Regions from separate parts of the Homo sapiens genome. Here region 2 is linked to region 1. The links come from fine-mapping of genetic effects on gene expression. A gene starts in region 1. The other region holds a variant in brackets. All regions are shown on one strand. Distances are from middle to middle.

The links.
Region 2: its variant is fine-mapped to the expression of REXO4 in whole blood (INTERVAL, PIP 0.92).

Annotation. Positions count from the first base shown.
Region 1 is chr9:133,413,669-133,421,926 of GRCh38, reverse strand. It overlaps REXO4 (REX4 homolog, 3'-5' exonuclease), which reads left to right and starts at 3,917. Exons shown (of 8, transcript NM_020385.4): 1 at 3,917-4,307; 2 at 6,916-7,262. The coding sequence starts at 4,083. It also overlaps a transcript of ADAMTS13 not described here. RefSeq lists enhancers at 1-35, 266-405, 3,603-3,822 and a silencer at 3,933-4,172.
Region 2 is chr9:133,342,294-133,350,595 of GRCh38, reverse strand. MED22 (mediator complex subunit 22) reads left to right here and starts at 2,465. Exons shown (of 5, transcript NM_133640.5): 1 at 2,465-2,674; 2 at 3,896-4,056; 3 at 5,344-5,424; 4 at 6,263-6,471. The coding sequence starts at 3,934. RPL7A (ribosomal protein L7a) reads right to left here and starts at 2,378. Exons shown (of 8, transcript NM_000972.3): 1 at 2,350-2,378; 2 at 1,554-1,674; 3 at 896-1,045; 4 at 544-684; 5 at 277-356. The coding sequence starts at 2,352. It overlaps SNORD24 (small nucleolar RNA, C/D box 24), which reads right to left and starts at 1,200; the gene lies at 1,126-1,200. It overlaps SNORD36B (small nucleolar RNA, C/D box 36B), which reads right to left and starts at 502; the gene lies at 432-502. It also overlaps SNORD36A. RefSeq lists enhancers at 1,957-2,426, 2,288-2,582, 3,887-4,388, 4,389-4,892, 8,056-8,302. The variant C/T (reference allele first, on the strand shown) is at 4,596.

The DNA.
Region 1 (8,258 bases):
GATCTCAGCATCATCACAAACGGCCTGGCAATCCCCTTCATCTCCTGGAAGACTCACTTCACATGCTCCAAACCACTCTTTTACACCCACAGAGCCGCACAAGCTGATGACCAGCAGGGGGATTCACCTTGTCTTTCCACCCCTCAAAGTGCAGCCTCTCTCCTCCTCTGCGATCAGGGAGGACACACCTACACTTCCTGCCAGGCCCTGGCTCTGGATCCCTTCCCAGCTCTCTCCTCCTGCATCGTTAGTTTCTGCCCCTCTGCTAGAGCCATTCATTCATTCCTTCAGCCAACAAATGTTTCACTGAGCCCCTGAAACAGGCCAGGCTCTGTGCTAGACACCAGGAAAGCAGCCCCAAGCCAGGCAGACAGCAGCCTCGGCCTCTCACAGCTTAAATTCTAGGGAAGAGAGCCAGACAGCAAAGTTGCTAGACAGACACATGTTGTATATGTAGTATGTTCAAAGGTGGTAAGTGTTATGGAGAAAAATACAGCAGAATAAAGGAATGGGGGACTGGAGGGAAGGGTGTGCTTTCATGCAGGAAGGTAAGGAGGCTGTTGGAGAAGGGGGCATGCTTAGATATCGAGATCCTGGTACCTGGCTCACTCCATCAGCATGAATGACTCTCCTGTCTCTTTTTGGTTTTTGTTTGTTTTTTGAGACAGAGTCTTGCTGTGTCACCCAGGCTGGAGTGCAGTGGCACGATCTCGGCTCACTGCAACCTCCGCCACCCAGGTTCAAGTGATTCTCCTGCCTCAGCCTCCCTTGTGGCTGGGATTACAGGCACCCGCCATCACGCCTGGCTAGTTTTTGTATTTTTAGTAGAGGTGGGGTTTCGCCATGTTGGCCAAGCTGGTCTCAAACTCCTGACCTCAGGTGAGCTGACTGCCTCGGCCTCCCAAAGTGCTGGGATTACAGGCATGAGCCACCAAGCCCAGACACTCTGGTGTCTCTTGATTACAATCAACAACCTTCCCTTGACCCACACTGTCCTCCTGCCATAGCCCTGTTTCTGGCTGTCTTTAAGAACTTAGAAACATTATTTTCAGTGGCTATCTCCACTTCCTTGCCTTCAATTCCCACATACCATTGAAATTGATCTTTAAAAGGTCACCAATAACTTTGTGAACCCTGAAAGAGCCAATCCTTCTTGATGGATCCCAAGTTACTAACTGGGCCTAAATTCAAAGTAGGACCTAGCAGCCATTTGCTGACTAGGGTCACACACACATTCTGCGTTCCTGGAAAGCCCCCACTCTCACTTAACTCTGGGATGGTTTCACAGCTATCTGTTCCTGTTTATGCCGCCAGAATCAACCCATCGACTGTGACCTGCATCGACCAATCTGAACTCAGCAAGTATTAACCAATCAGAACTAAGCAAGTGTGCCTTCCTCATTTGCATAAGTGGACCAAAGTGGGAACCTGGGCAGGAAGTTCTCTACAAAAGACGACCTCTTTCTTTGTTCTCTTTGTTCCCTGGAATGCACCTTTGTACAGAAGGCTGCATTGCCCTGGTTTACAAACTGCTGGAACAAAGTTTTTTTCCTTTTTTAAAAAGAAAACCTGGGCCAGGTGTGGTGGCTCACGCCTTTAATCCCAGCACTTTGGGAGGCCGAGGCAGGTGGATCACGAGGCACGCGGATCATGAGGTCAGGAGTTCGAGATCAGCCTGGCCAGCATAGTGAAACCCCGTCTCTTTTCAAAAATACAAAAATTAGGCTAGGTGCGGTGGCTCACGCCTGTAATCCCAACACTTTGGGAGGCTGAGGCGAGAGGATCACCTGATGTCTGGAGATCCATACCAGCCTGGCCAACATGGAGAAACCCCATCTCTACTAAAAGTACAAAATTAGCCGGGCGTGGTGGCACATGCCTGTAATCCCAGCTACTCGGGAGGCTGAGGCAGAAGAATCACTTGAACCCGGGAGGTGGAGGTTGCGGTGAGCCGAGATTGCGCCATTGCACTCCAGCCTGGGCGACAAGAGCATAACTTCGTCTCAAAAAAAAAAAAAAAATTAGCTGGGCATGGTGGCGTGCACCTGTAGTTCCAGCTACCCAGGAGGCTGAGGCAGGAGAATCGCTTGAACCCGGGAGGTGGAGATTGTGGTGAGCCGATATCACGCCACTGCACTCCAGCCTGGGCAGCAGAGCAAGACTCCGTCTCAAAACAAACAAAAAAAAAGAAAACCCTTTTCGGTGGACTTGCTGACAATCTCAGTGCCATATCTGGTTCCCATCTCTCTGTCCTCGTCCTTCTCAGCCTCTCAGCAGCATCTGATGTGGTTTATTCTCCCCCTGGATTCTCTGATGCCACTCACATCCGCTTCTCCTCCCACTGCACTGACTGCTCCCCCTCAGCCTCCTCTGCTGCTTCGCCCCTGGAGAGCCCCCAGCACCTGCTATCTGGTCTTAACCCTTCACTCCCTATATTGGTACTCTCTCTTTGGATGAACTAACCCAGGTTCATGTTTCAACACTAATTATGTGCTGACGATTTCCAAATTACATCTCCAGCACTGACCCTTCCCTAAGCTTAGGAATCTTATATCCTGCTGCTGATTAGACGTCTCTCCTTGGTGACTGACGGCCCGTTCAAACTCAGCAAGTGTGAAAAGGAGCTCATGGCTCCACCCCCATACTTCACCCTGCTCCCCGCAGACATTTATTGAGATGATAAATGGCCACACCCAATTGCTCAGACCAAAATCCTAGGAGCCTCACTTCCCTGTTACTCCATCAACCTCTGCCTGTTACACACGCACATCAAATCTACCCACTCCCGGCCGGGCACGGTGGCTCACACCTGTAATCCCAGCGCTTTGGGAGGCCGAGGCGGATGGATCACTGGAGGTCAGGAGTTCAAGACAGCCTGGCCAACGTGGCGAAACCCCAGGTCTACTAAAAATACAAAAATTGGCAGAGAGTGGTGGCGTGCACCTATAGTCCCAGCTACTCAGGAGGCTGAGGCAGGAGAATCGCTTGAACCCAGGCGGCAGAAGTAAGGGAGGAGACCACCCCTCATATTGTCTTATGCCCAATTTCTGCTTCCAAATAAAGAAGTAAAAACTAAAAGGCAGAAATAAAATCCACAGGCAGACAGCCCGGCGCCGCGCCCTGGGCCTGGTTAAAGATCAATCCTTGACCTAACCGGTTATGTTATCTATAGATTTCAGACATTGTATGGAAAAGCATTGTGAAAATCCCTGTCCTGTTCTGTTGCGTTCTGATTACCGGTGCATGCAGCCCCCAGTCACGTACCCCCTGCTTGCTCAATCGATCACGACCCTCTCACACAGACCCCCTTAGGGTTGTAAGCCCTTAAAAGGGACAGGAATTGCTCACTCAGAGAGCTCGGTTTTTGGAGACGTGAGTCTGCCGATGCTCCCCACTAAATAAAGCCCTTTCCTTCTACAATTCGGTGTCTGAGGGGTTCTTGTCTGCGGCTCGTCCTGCTACAGAGTGAACTGGCAGGAACTCCTCCCGGTGCCTGGGCCTCAGTTTCCCCACTGTACGTGGAAGATGAGCCGCTGTGAGGCTGAGCAAGGAGCAGCCCAAGGCGGGAAAGGCTCGAGAGTCCAGGACGCAGGCGAGCGACCTAGCCCGGCTCTCACTAGCCCCACCGCCCAGTGCCCCCAGCTCAGCTGCCCTACCAGGTGCTACACACACAGCGGCCCCCCAGTTCCCTTCCGGCGTTCGCATCTCTCATCCCCATCCCGGATCTTGGGGAGGTCCTCGGCTTGCCCCAGTCAAACTCGAGGTCGATGACCCCGGATGCCGCTGGCTAAGGCGGCGGCCCAAGTCCCGTGCGGGTGAACCGCCCAGGCTGCGCGGAACCAGAGGCAGGGATCCGGTTTCCAGCCGGTTGTGGAGAGACGAGCGCTTCCGGGGACTGGAGCGTGCGTGCTGAGGTATGCGCAACGCGTGCGGGGTCTCTTCCGGAGTCTTTTCCTGGACGGGGTCCCTGCGGTGGGTGTGTTTCGGCCTGGCCTGGGCAGGCGCTTGTGCTGCCAGGGCGCCGGGCCCGGGGAGGCCGGGGTCTCGGGTGGCCGCCGGCCCAGGCGCTGGACGGCAGCAGGATGGGGAAGGCGAAGGTCCCCGCCTCCAAGCGCGCCCCGAGCAGCCCCGTGGCTAAGCCGGGTCCTGTCAAGACGCTCACTCGGAAGAAAAACAAGAAGAAAAAAAGGTTTTGGAAAAGCAAGGCGCGGGAAGTAAGCAAGAAGCCAGCAAGCGGCCCCGGTGCTGTGGTGCGACCTCCAAAGGCACCAGAAGACTTTTCTCAAAACTGGAAGGCGCTGCAAGAGGTGAGGCTTGAGGGGGCCCGGGCGGAGCGCTGCGCAGCTCATTCCCGCAGAACGCGACGGAGGGAAAGACTTGGGTAGCCCCAAAAGACCTGTAAAGGCAGATTTGAATCGAAATCTTGTAAACAGCTTTTCACAAGAAAGGTGGCCTGTTGAGGGAGGTCTCGAACTTGTTTGCTTGAAAGAAATTGATGAAAGAATTATTTCAAGTACAAAAAAGCAAAGATAAACCCTTGTACCTTTTGCATAATGAACTAACTAGAATGGATTTTACAAAGAGAAATTTAGCTTAAAATCCCGAAACCAGGCCGGGCGCGGGGCCTCACGCCTGTGATCCCAGCACTTTGGGAGGCCGAGGCGGGCAGATCCCCTGAGGTCAAGAGTTCAAGACCAGCCCGGCCAACATGGTGAAACCCCGTGTCTACTAAAAAAGTACAAAAAATATTAGCCGGGCGTGATGGCGCGCGCCGGTAGTCGCAGCTACTCGGGGAGCCTGAGGCAGAAGAATCGCTTGAACCCGGGAGGCAGAGGCAGTAGTAAGCCGAAATCGCGCCACTGCACTCCAGCCTGGGCGACAGAGCGAGACTCCATCTCAAACAACAACAACGAAAGAACACACTGGTCTGTGTAGCAAGACAGGGAGAAAGAAGATTCCTGTGTAGAAGTGAAAAGCAGATAGCAGACATGTGATGGGGTTCTAGCGACACTTACGGTCTTGAAGTAAATACTAATTGAGCTCCTAAAAATGTGCACTCTGCCATGTGCTCTATGCCATGCGTGTTGCAATCCCCACAATAAGACTGTGAGGTGGACACTTCCATCATCGCTATTGTACAGATGAGGAAATAGGCTGGAAAAGTTTAAATAGATCATCTAAGATTGCGGCTGGGAACCAGGTGGCTGACTCTGGAGTCCATGCTTTTAAGGCTGTGTTGTACCTGCTGTCTCCCTAGTGACCTGCACTTCTGTAGAGGTTGCCTGCTCTCTCCTAGACACTCTTCCACGTGCGTCACTCATACATTCTTACCACATCCCTTGGAGCTCCCTTGGAGCTACCTCCTGTTAGGATCATAGCTCACTGCTGCCTGGGCTCCAGTGATTCTCCTGCCTCAGCCTCCCGAGTAGCCCACACGTGTAATCCCAGCACTTTGGGAGGCCCAGGCAGGAGGATCACTTGAGCTCAGGAGTTCAAGTCCAGCCTGGGCAACATGGTGAGATTCCATCTCTAAATAAAAGTAAAAAGTAGTTTTTTTAAAAAAGAAATGTGATCCCCAGTGGTGGAGATGGGGCCCATAGGAGGTATTGGGTCATGGGGGTAGATCCCTCATGAATGACTTGGTGCCCTCCCCTCAGTAACGAGTAAGTTCTCACTCTGCTGGTTCATTTGAGAGCTGGTTGTTTAAAAAGAGCCTAGCACCTTTTTTGCTTGCTCTCTCACCACGCAACACACCTGCTCCCCCTTCACCTTACACCATGATGGGAAGCTTCCTTCGGCCTCACCAGAAGCAGATGCTGGCACCATGCTTCTTGTACAACCTGCAAAACCATGAGCTACATAAACGTTTTTTCTTTATAAATTACCAAACACAGGTATTCCTTTATAGCAGTGCACAATGAACTAATACAGATGGGGTTTCACTTTGTTGCCCAGGCTGGTCTTCAACTCCTGACCTCAAGCAATCCTCCCACCTCAGCCTCCCCGAGCGCTTCTTGAACCTCCTAATACTCTGCACAGTATCTCAGTGCAGACATTCCTGTCTTAACACACAGGACCAGTCAAATTCCCGTGGGCAGCCCCAGGGTTCTGTGGGATTTCTTGAACACCAACTCTTCTTCCTTCTCCCAAGAAAGAAAAGCAAAATAAGTGAATGGAAGGGATGTGTGCTATAGGGAAACTTTGGAGTGTTTTCTAATTCATCCAAGAAAGTCAGCCCTTCAGTTCTTTACCTATCACAGAACAGGTAAGTAGCACCCGCCTCATCATCGCACTGTGGTGGCGCCCACTCCCACTGGGGATTTGAACACAGGGAGGAAGCTGGGCTCTAAGACTACAGGAGCCTCTGCTTGGGTGACAGCCAAGGTGTGTGGCTGCTAGCAGTTCTTCAGCCACTCCAGTTTGACAGAAGCTTTTCTTTTCATTTATGACACCCCCCACCTTCCTGAGATCTTCACAGCAGTAGCAAACCAGGGAATCTTGTAAAAAAAAAAAAAGCGATTTCTGTGTAGCAGGATGTTGGCCCAAGCTGTGAGGGAAGTTAACTCCAAAATTCTTTCTAGATAAGCTGAAAAGGGAAGTGGTCTGTGGTGTCCAGCCACTCAACAGGTACCCAAGGTGTAGAATGAGTTTGACATTTTGTATGCATGAAGGAGCAGGTGCAAAATGCATTATAATAAGATAAGCAAAGAAACAGCATTTCACCACAAGTGACCCATGAGAATGAAAAAGAGCTTTTTCCAAACCGTTTGAAAATGAATTTCAGTGATGCGGATGGGAATTGTATAGATGTGTTTGGTGTATATGTGTGTATATACATACACACGTAAGTTTTTTCAATCTGCTGTGTGTAATTTCCAAATTCAAATGCAGCATGTATTTTATTTTGGGTCCCAGTGGCTGCTGAAACAAAAATCTCAGGCCCCAGAAAAGCCTCTTGTCATCTCTCAGATGGGTTCCAAAAAGAAGCCCAAAATTATCCAGCAAAACAAAAAAGAGACCTCGCCTCAAGTGAAGGGAGAGGAGATGCCGGCAGGAAAAGACCAGGAGGCCAGCAGGGGCTCTGTTCCTTCAGGTTCCAAGATGGACAGGAGGGCGCCAGTACCTCGCACCAAGGCCAGTGGAACAGAGCACAATAAGAAAGGAACCAAGGAAAGGACAAATGGTGATATTGTTCCAGAACGAGGGGACATCGAGCATAAGAAGCGGAAAGCTAAGGAGGCAGCCCCAGCCCCACCCACCGAGTAAGTATGGGCCACCTCACCACTGAGAACCGAGGCACAGCGACTTCACCAAGGCCTGTCTCCTTATGGAGGCTGGTGGCCTCACCGCAGTCTCTCCATCACTTTACCCTGATGTCGTCTGTTCCTTTGTTTACTCGCTGTTACTTGTTTTCCCCTAGAGTGTGCGCATGATAAGGCAGGGCCTGCTTCTTCCGAGCGTTGAGCAGAGCTCAGCATTTAGTGGGTGCCAGTACACGTGTGTGGAAGGAAAGCGTGCTGAAGCCAGAAAGACCCAAGTATGAGGCCTGTCCCTGCTTCTCGCCAGTTGGGTGGTTTGGGGCAAGTTTCTGACGTCCTCTGTGCCTTGTGGTAGTCATGGTGGCATCATAAGGAGATTGTGAGGTTGGCACTCTTGGCTCAGTGCCTGGTGATTACTTCAACCCTGTGATGGAGCCAGGTGTGGTGGCTGTTGCCTGTGATCCCAGCTCCTTGGGAGGCCAAGGTGGGAGGATCACTTGATCCCAGGAGGTTGAGGCTGCAGTGAGCTGTGATTGCACTACTGCCTCCAGCCTGGGTGACGGAGCAAGACTCTCAAAAAAACAAGTGAAAAGAATAAACCCTGTGCTGGCCACCCACGTGGGGTGGACCGGGAGTCAGTGGCCTTCTCTGAATGGTTCAGCTGGAGGTGACGTGTTCATAAGTTACAGCTGGCTTCATGTTGCCTGGGTGTTCAGGACACAGTCGCTGATGGCTGAGGAATGAGCCATTTGGGGGCCTCCCTGTGTTGTGCTAGGCAGGCTGTCTGGGATAGAGTTCAGTGAGGTGGGCCTGCTCCTCCCTCTTGAGGCTTATTGTCAAGTGCAGTAGACAGACTGTAAACTGCAGCTGTTGATTAAGTGTGGTCAGGATAAATCTAGTGAGGAGAAGGTATTGGGCGCCTGGAACAAGAGGGACGTGTCCATTCAGTGGGGCCAGGAATGGCTTTTCTAAGGAAATGACATTTAACCTTAGCCCAAG
Region 2 (8,302 bases), 71 kb after region 1:
TGGAAGAAAGCATTAGCTGAAGACTGTATTTTGACCAAAAGCAGCAAATTTCAGTTAGCTTGTAACAATTGCTCAGGGTTAAAAAGCTCATGGATTCGCACTTCAAGGTTGAATTCAGTGAGAGATTCACATCATTGCAAGAGCCACGCATGTGTTGGATCTGTGTCAGTACTGCCCTCACCCACTTCGGTCCCATCACTGACTTGGCATTAGGTCTACTCTCTCTTCCTGGTACTGCCAGAAGCCCTTGGGTTAGCAGTCAACAGGCAAACGCACCTCGATGGGATCCACGTCGTGTGCAATCACCACCAGCTGAGCTTTCTTGTTCTCCACCAAGGTGGTGACGGTGTTAACTCCTAGAACACACAACCACTTTGTGAGCACTCACAGGGCCTGCTCTAGTCACAAGAAGCTGCTGGGCTCAGCTGCTGACTCAGTGTTAAAAAGCTCGGTTTTACTCTTCACAGTAATTTCAGGCCAAGAAATTTTACATCACTGCAACAGCCCGCCCCCAGTGTTCACCCTAAGGTGGGGCCTACTCACCTGCTCGAAGGACAGGTGGTCTCTTCGTTGGGACGTCCCCTTTGCCAGCAGCCTTCTTCTCGGCCCGGGCCAACAGTCTCTGCTTCTTCTCTTGCTTTGTCTCTGGTCTGTACTTGTGGGCCAGCTTAAGCAGCTGAGTAGCTGGAAAAACACTCTTCAGTTTAGGCTTGGAGTCAAGGTTCTAATCCTTGTCACTTAACACTTAATAACAAATGCTGGACTGCGGTCCTGCTATATGACTATAATTTAATGACAACTGCAGTTCAAGAAGCCTAAGACCATCCCCCTCATGTTCTGGATGAAATAAGGAATCCTTGCCTGAGAAACTCCTTTCCACGCCACAGAACCTCACCTGTTTGGCGGTCCAGGGCCTGGGTGAACTGGTTAATCGCAGGAGGCACTTTCAGCCGCTTATAGAGGATGGCTCTCTGCCGCTGCAACCTGATATAGCGGGGCCATTTCACAAAGCGGGTGAGGTCTCTTTTGGGCTGGATGTCCTGTCCTGAGAAGTAAAGGGTGACACCGAGTGAGGCTCAAATTCCATGTCAAGTTCATGTCTGGGGCCACTAGGAAGGGTGTTGGTGCATCAGCGATCTTGGTGGTTTAAAATGTCATCACCATCTCTCAGATAGCAAATATTCTTTTACATCATCTGCACACAAACACCTGAGAACAAAGAGCACGATGCTTTTCCTCATCTAACAAGAAGCCAAGGTGCCACGAAGTACAGCAGAATTGCAGTCCTAGTACCTCGCTGCGACACTGCTACTGTACTTGTTTCCAGATGGCTAAGCTGAATTCAAGGCCACTACCATATTGAGCTGAATGCTCGCTCAGCAACTCCCAATGAAAGCAAGAAGCATGTATCATTGCCCCCGTCTCTAAGAGACACAAATTAAGGACTGCGACCACTTTACACCCACTAAAACCTACAAGATACAACACAACCCAATTACCACCTTCCCTTGAGAAAAACATAGACCGTTTTCATTCTGCCGTTTGTTACTTACCAATGCCAAAATTCTTAGGCCTTTTCTCAAACAGGGGATTCACCACTTTCTTAGCCTCCTGCTTCTTCACGACAGCTGGGGCCGGAGCCACCTTCTTTCCCTTGGCCTTCTTTCCTTTCGGCTGGGCAGAAAGAAAACGTCAGTTAAACCGCCGCCTCCACTCGCTTCGTCGGGGGTAGGGCTCAGGCTGGCTCCTCCAAAACAAGGGACGCTGACAGCACCTGCCTGAACTAAGCTGGCGAGCAGCTTTCTGCAACCCCCCAGCACCACCCCTCGACAGGAGCATCTCACATTCAGCCGCACAAGCATGCAGCCCCGGGAACCCCGAGTGGCCAGAGCAAGGCTAAGCCCGAGACCACGCTCTCTTCGCGTCGCCCACCCAGGAGACACCCCGGACTCATGACTCCTCTGAGTCGCGGCCCCACAGGCTCTAGAAGCAACAGGGGCGGGCTCAGAACTCGTCGCTCACAAGGCCTCTGGAGCGGCCCCCAGCAAGCCCGAGAGACGCTAGGGCTCCGAGCCCCGCACTGCGGTGCTCCAGGCCTGCGACACCCAGCCCTGCGACACCGGGAACAACGCATTCCGCTCTCGGCCGCCCGGGGCTCTAGTCCATCTCAATGTCTCCGTGCCACACCAAGTGGGGCTCTAATCCACCTCGGTGTCTCCGTGCCACACCGAGTGGGGCTCTCCTAGCGCCAGGAGGAGCAGGAGGCCCTCCGAGGCCGCGCCTGGAGGAGGATGGCAGCGGATACAGCCGGAACCTGGCTATAGTGCCACGGAACTACAGCTCACTCACCATCTTGGGCGGCGGGAGGAGAGAGAAAGGAAAGGGAATTGTGGGTAATATGTATGCGGCCTCGGAGATCGCGAGAGTTGATACCGGCACGGGATTTCGGATTTAAAGCAACAGCATTCCTATAAAGCTAAAAATCGAGGCGGGGCCGAGAGGCTGCGGCGGCTGACTAGGTTTTCGGACCGCGGCGCGGCGGGGAAGAGAGACTGCGGCGGGAGGGCCAGGCCGTGGGAGAGACGCGGGAAAGTGCGGGTCGCAGAGGCACTTGACCACCCCGCCCTAGGCCGACCCGGCGGACGCGGCGTCTGGTGTGCGGGCGCTGGGGCGGGTATGAGGGTGTGGTGGGGGGTGGGGATGGAGGGGGGGTGGGTGTGTGGGCGGGAGTGGGGGTGGGTGGGTGCGTAGGCGCTGGGGTCGGAGATCCCCTTTCCTGCGTGTGACTTATTTCCCACACCCCGCCAAAAATGGGCACAAACAATGCGAGTGCGTCCAGGAGTCCGCTCGGTCGTGCGCCAGACTCCGAACCTAGGGGGCCCCGGGCCCTCCCTGAGCACCGCGCGCAAAGGCCCGGCCCCAGGGCCAGGCAACTCCAGCGCCGAGGCCGTCCAGTGCGGCTGGAGGGCAGAGGCCGAGAGGCGCGGCGCGGAACTTGAGCCCCTTGTCCCGGCGCACCGGGGAACCATGAGGGATGTTAAGCGAGGGAGTGGAATTACCCCCCTTTTTTTTTTCTTTTGGAGACGTAGTCTCCCCCTGTCGCCCAGGCTGGAGTGCAGTGGCGCGATCTCGGCTCACTGCGACCTGTGCTTCCCGGGTTCAAGCGATTCTCCTGCCTCAGCCTCCCGAGTAGCTGGGATTACAGGCGCCTGCCATCACGCCCGGCTAATTTTTGTATTTTTAGTAGAGTTGGGGTTTCACCATGTTGGTCAGGCTAGTCTCAAACTCCTGACCTCAGGTGATCCCTGCCTCGGCCTCCCAAAGTGCTGGGATTACAGGCGTGAGCCACCGCGCCCGGTTGGAATGACCACTTTTTAGGACCTCTTCCCTGCCGCGCAGAGACTGGAGGGAGCGGGGCCCGCAGTGCAGGGATGAGGTCTGGAGCGGGGCAGCCTGAGTGGGAGTGGAAGGAAAGCGTGGATGTAGGCGGTGCAGAGGGGTCGAATTGGAAGGACTCTTCGGATGGGAGGGCGTGGCGAAGGTGGCGGCGGGCTAAGAAGTTAAGCCAAGGGCTGGGGACGGGGAGCTGGTGTTGAGTTTGCAGGGCTCCCTGGGACACGCTGTGGGCCTGGACGTGAAGTCTGGACTGGAGCCCTGGACAGGGCTTGGAGGGCTGGCCAGGAGTTCCAGGATGAGCTTGCTCTGGCAAAGGCGGGGCCAGTCCTGGCACCCCCTGCGGTGTCTGCTGATGGAATGAGTTCATCTGTGTTTCAGTGATTGACTTTATTTGGCAGAAAGGGAATCCCCAGAAATCTGCGTGTTCTGCTAAGGTTGGGGCATAGAGGGTGGCTGGGGTAGACTCTGCCTGCACTCAGAGGTCTGTGCTGCACTCTAGGTCCCAGGTCTCCCCGCTGCGCTGCTTGAGGCTCGGCCATGGCCCAGCAGAGAGCCCTGCCCCAGAGCAAGGAGACGCTGCTGCAGTCCTACAACAAGCGGCTGAAGGACGACATTAAGTCCATCATGGACAACTTCACCGAGATCATCAAGACCGCCAAGGTGGGGGTGGGGTGGCCCACCAAGGGGAGCAGAGTCTGAGAAGGGGTGGAGACAGGAGAGGCCAGGGGCTGAGCAGCGCGAGTGAATAGTGTTCTAGGCAGGAAGCACCCAGTGCACAGGGAGCTGGTCAGTAGATAAGCAAACCAAATAATGGCACGTCCAGCCCTTACTAACAGTATGGATTTGGATGGAGATTTCACTTTTTAGTGCCTCAGTTTCTCCTGCATGGTGGGGTCCTTGTGATGACTGGTGAGTTTATCTGTGTAAAACAGTTACCTCGGGGCCTGGCACACAGCCAATGAGCAGGAGAAAAGCAGACTGAGGGGAGAAGTGGGGGGGGGCCTCCAGGCAGGTGGAGCGGTCAGCACTGGGGCCTGCAAGCCTGCTGACCACTGCAGCTACAGCTGCATCAGATTGGGCTGGATCCCTCCTGGCTGCTGCAGACCTGGCAGGCTCCATAAGCGATGATGATGAGGATGGAAGCTAGCATGTACTTAGTGCTTGCCATGTATCAAGCCACGTTGTGAGGTTATCTGTGC[C/T]TGTTCTGCTGAATCTTCATGAGGACTCTGTGAGGTGGGCACTGTTGTCCTCTTCATTTCAGGAGGAAACCCAGGCCCAGGAGACTTAGTGACTTGCCCAAGGTCACTCAGCTCACAACTGGCTGAGCCAGGATTTGAACCCACGAAGTCTGGGTCTTAACCACTGAGGGTACCTGACACCCACCCCGAACTGAGCCTTTGCAAGGCCTGCCGGGAAGCCCCATCCAGCCTCGCTTGGCCACCTATACACCAGGGGTGGCAGGCCAGGCTTCTGTGAAACTGGCATGGGTTAATGGTGGTCAAGTGCATGACACAGCCTGGCACCTGGGAAGTGATCAGGAAATGGTCGCGAAAAAAAACTTAAATCATCCCTTCACTCATCCAACAGTTTACCAAATGCCAAGCAAGTGACAACGGTTCCTACCAAACAGGGCTCCCACAGCCCAAAAAGACCGGGCCAAGATAAGCCCCCATCCCTGCACCTAGTACAGCAAGCAGCGTGGGTTGCCTCTATTTGTCTTGAGCAAAGGTGCATGTTGTCTCCCATGGCCAGAACAAGAGAGGGTGGAATTGAACCTTGTCAGAGGTCTGGCTGACAGCGCTTAGGTCTGTAGATGGCACCACAGACAGGTTGTGGCCAGTGTGGACATCCTGGGTAGATGACAGTTACCGTAAGCTGGGCTGGGCCGGGCCAGGGGTGGGGATGCCTTGGCTGGGTTGATTTCTAGGTTTTCTTGTTTTCCCCCAGATTGAGGACGAGACGCAGGTGTCACGGGCCACTCAGGGTGAACAGGACAATTACGAGATGCATGTGCGAGCCGCCAACATCGTGAGTGGCCAGGGTGGAGGGCACGGCCTGGGCTCCAAGAGCATCAGTCCCCTCAGGTTTCCTGGGTGGAGTGGAGGGGGCTCTGGGGCTGGTCTGGTCTTCTTCCCCCGAGAAGGAGCAGAAGGAGGCAAATGTAGAGATGCTTTGGTTTCACCACTCGGCAGCTTTAAAGAATGAGGTGGGGGCAAATCATTTCTCAGGAGACTGTCCTCACGTGGGGCACTTGGAGGAGGGCTGGGCAGAGAGCCACCCATGCCCGTCCTGTAGCCGTGCAGTGGCCAGAAAGAGGGTAGCCCTTCCTGCTAACTCAGGAGTTCCTAAGGTCAGTTGTGAGTGAAAAGACAAACAGCCGAATGGAACTGTAGGCGCCATTGGATTCCTTCGGATCACAGGAGAAACACAGCAAGCAGATAATTCCGCAGGTGCACGTCCAGGGCTCAAAATGCATGGAAAAAGGTCCCACAGGAGCTCTGCCCAGCTGGCAGCCATGTTAATCCTACCCCGGGGCAGGAGGCAAAATGGGATCGCAGTTTTATCTGTGGGGTTTGAGTTTTTCATGAGCAGAATGTACACCTGCATAATTGGACTGGAGGCCAGTCCTGCAGGAGTGGAAGCCAGAGGCTGACGAGAGGGGAGGGCCTGCCCTGCAGAACTGACATCCCAGTTTTCTCACTTAATTCTCACACATGAACCTGTGGAGGTCAGGGGTAGAGTCCCACTTTGCAGATGAGGAAGCTGAGGCTCCTAGAGAGGCCATCCCTTGCCCAGCATCAGCTACTTGTAGGCAAGGCCGCTGTCCCCCCTCACCCTGTGCCCGCCCTGGTTCTGATGGCCACAGGTCCGAGCCGGCGAGTCCCTGATGAAGCTGGTGTCCGACCTCAAGCAGTTCCTGATCCTCAATGACTTCCCCTCCGTGAACGAGGCCATTGACCAGCGCAACCAGCAGCTGCGCACACTGCAGGAGGAGTGCGACCGGAAGCTCATCACGCTGCGAGACGAGATCTCCATTGACCTCTACGAGCTGGAGGAGGAGTATTACTCGTCCAGGTATAAATAGCGCTGGACTCCCCATGCAGAGCGGGAGCCTGCCTACCTGGGCCTGGCCAGCAGGCAGGGCTGCCTTCTGCTTTTTCAAATTCTTGCTGGTCTTAGCAGTGGAGCCATGCCTGGGTTTCAGAGCAGAGCTCCTGGCCAGAGCGTTTGACCGACAGACAATTCACATCCATATGCCAGGGCCCTGGGCCTTTCCCACAGTGCAATGTGATGAAAACCACAGGACTCACGCCAGTCGGATAGGCCGAGTCTGGAGAAGGGAGGCGCCTGGCTGTATCCCCCGCAGGCCCTCTTCCGAGAGCCTTCCTCCTCGGGCAGTGCGTTCTGGGGCTGTGCTGCTCCTGTTACCTTCTGAATCCATATGTAGAGATTTCAGCCAAGGCTGGGCCAGCCTTTTTTGGGCAGTCAGGTCCACACCTATGTCCAGGGCACCAGGGATGCAATTCCATGTGGATGTCACCAAACCCCAGTGTGGAGGCAGGGACAGTCATGGGAATGTGGGGGATGAAGCCCAGGCAGGGAATGGCCTTGAAAGCCATTGGAGCTCCAATTCGTGACCCACTCAGCCTTATCCACGGAGCTGGAGCCAACCTACGTGCCAGGCCCCGTGCTGGGTCCCAGGGATGCAGAAGGGTCAAAACCCATCATCCTGACCCTTGTGGGGCTCCGTAAGAAGCTGAAACCTTCGACCGTTTGAGCTGGAGGGGCCCTGAGAAATCAGAGTCTACGTATCATTTACTTAGGGGGAAACTTAGGCTGGAGACAGGGAGGCCTTCCACTCTGCCCCATTAGCTTAGAAAATCAAGATTCAGTCCAGCAGATGCAGAGTCCATGTCCATCTTGTGCCTTCTCCTGGACAAACCTTTCCTTCCTGGTGGTGGATTTAAAATACTCCTTTCTGCCCATTGGCCATGCTGGGAGCCACAGATATCCAGAGCCAGCATGACCTGGGGCTTGGTTTCCCTGCCCTGGGCTCAGTGGCACTGCTGAGCTGCAGCAGTCCTAGAGTTTTCCAGGGGGTTCTGAGGGAATCTTTGGTCCCCAGTACTCATTAACTCAGCAGACATGAGGCAGCATTTCCTCCACACTAGGGTGGCTGAGAGGGGTCCTGGGGTGTTTCAGACCCTTCTGGGCATCTCCTTCCACAGCTGTTCAGTTTGTCGGTCTCTTTGAGGCAGCCACCGTCCCTGAGGGCCCCTGCACAGAGCAGCTGTGGGCCTGTAATTCAGCCTGCCTGCCTTGCCTTGGGGCAGGGAGAGAGGGAACCTGCTCACGGCCCTGCAGCAGAGCAGGGCGCAAACCCAGGACATCTGTGCCAGGCTTCCCATGCCCTCCCCCAACAGTCCCTCAGCTTCACCCAGCGGGGCTTCCAGGCCAGCCTGTGTCCCCTCCCGCAGGCCTCCTGTCCACACCAGCGCCCCCTGGGGGGCCTCACACAGCCCCTGTGGCAGAAGCAGTTGCCCTCCTCTGTACATTGCCTTTAAGCGACCAGGTCCTGGCCGAGTTTCCTCTGCCCCTTCTTGCTGGTCCCCCAAAGGGCGCTCCGCTCCCTGCCCTGCCCTGCCCTGTTCCGCATGAGCTGCGCCTCTGTGCTCGCCTGCCCCCTCTCTGCTTGTTAGTTGCTCTTTCTGGCTCTGCCTCTCCTTTGCGTTCCTCGGGATGCCACTCTGTGCCCAGGACGGTTCTGAGACTGAACACTGAGGGCAGGAGCAAGGGAGGAAGCCAGGGGCGAGGCAGGCCGCGGGAAAGCCAGGGCCCCTGCCTGCAGGTTAGAAAGAGGCGAGCGTGGATTGTCACAGCTGCGGGCATGGGAAGGGCTAGCTGA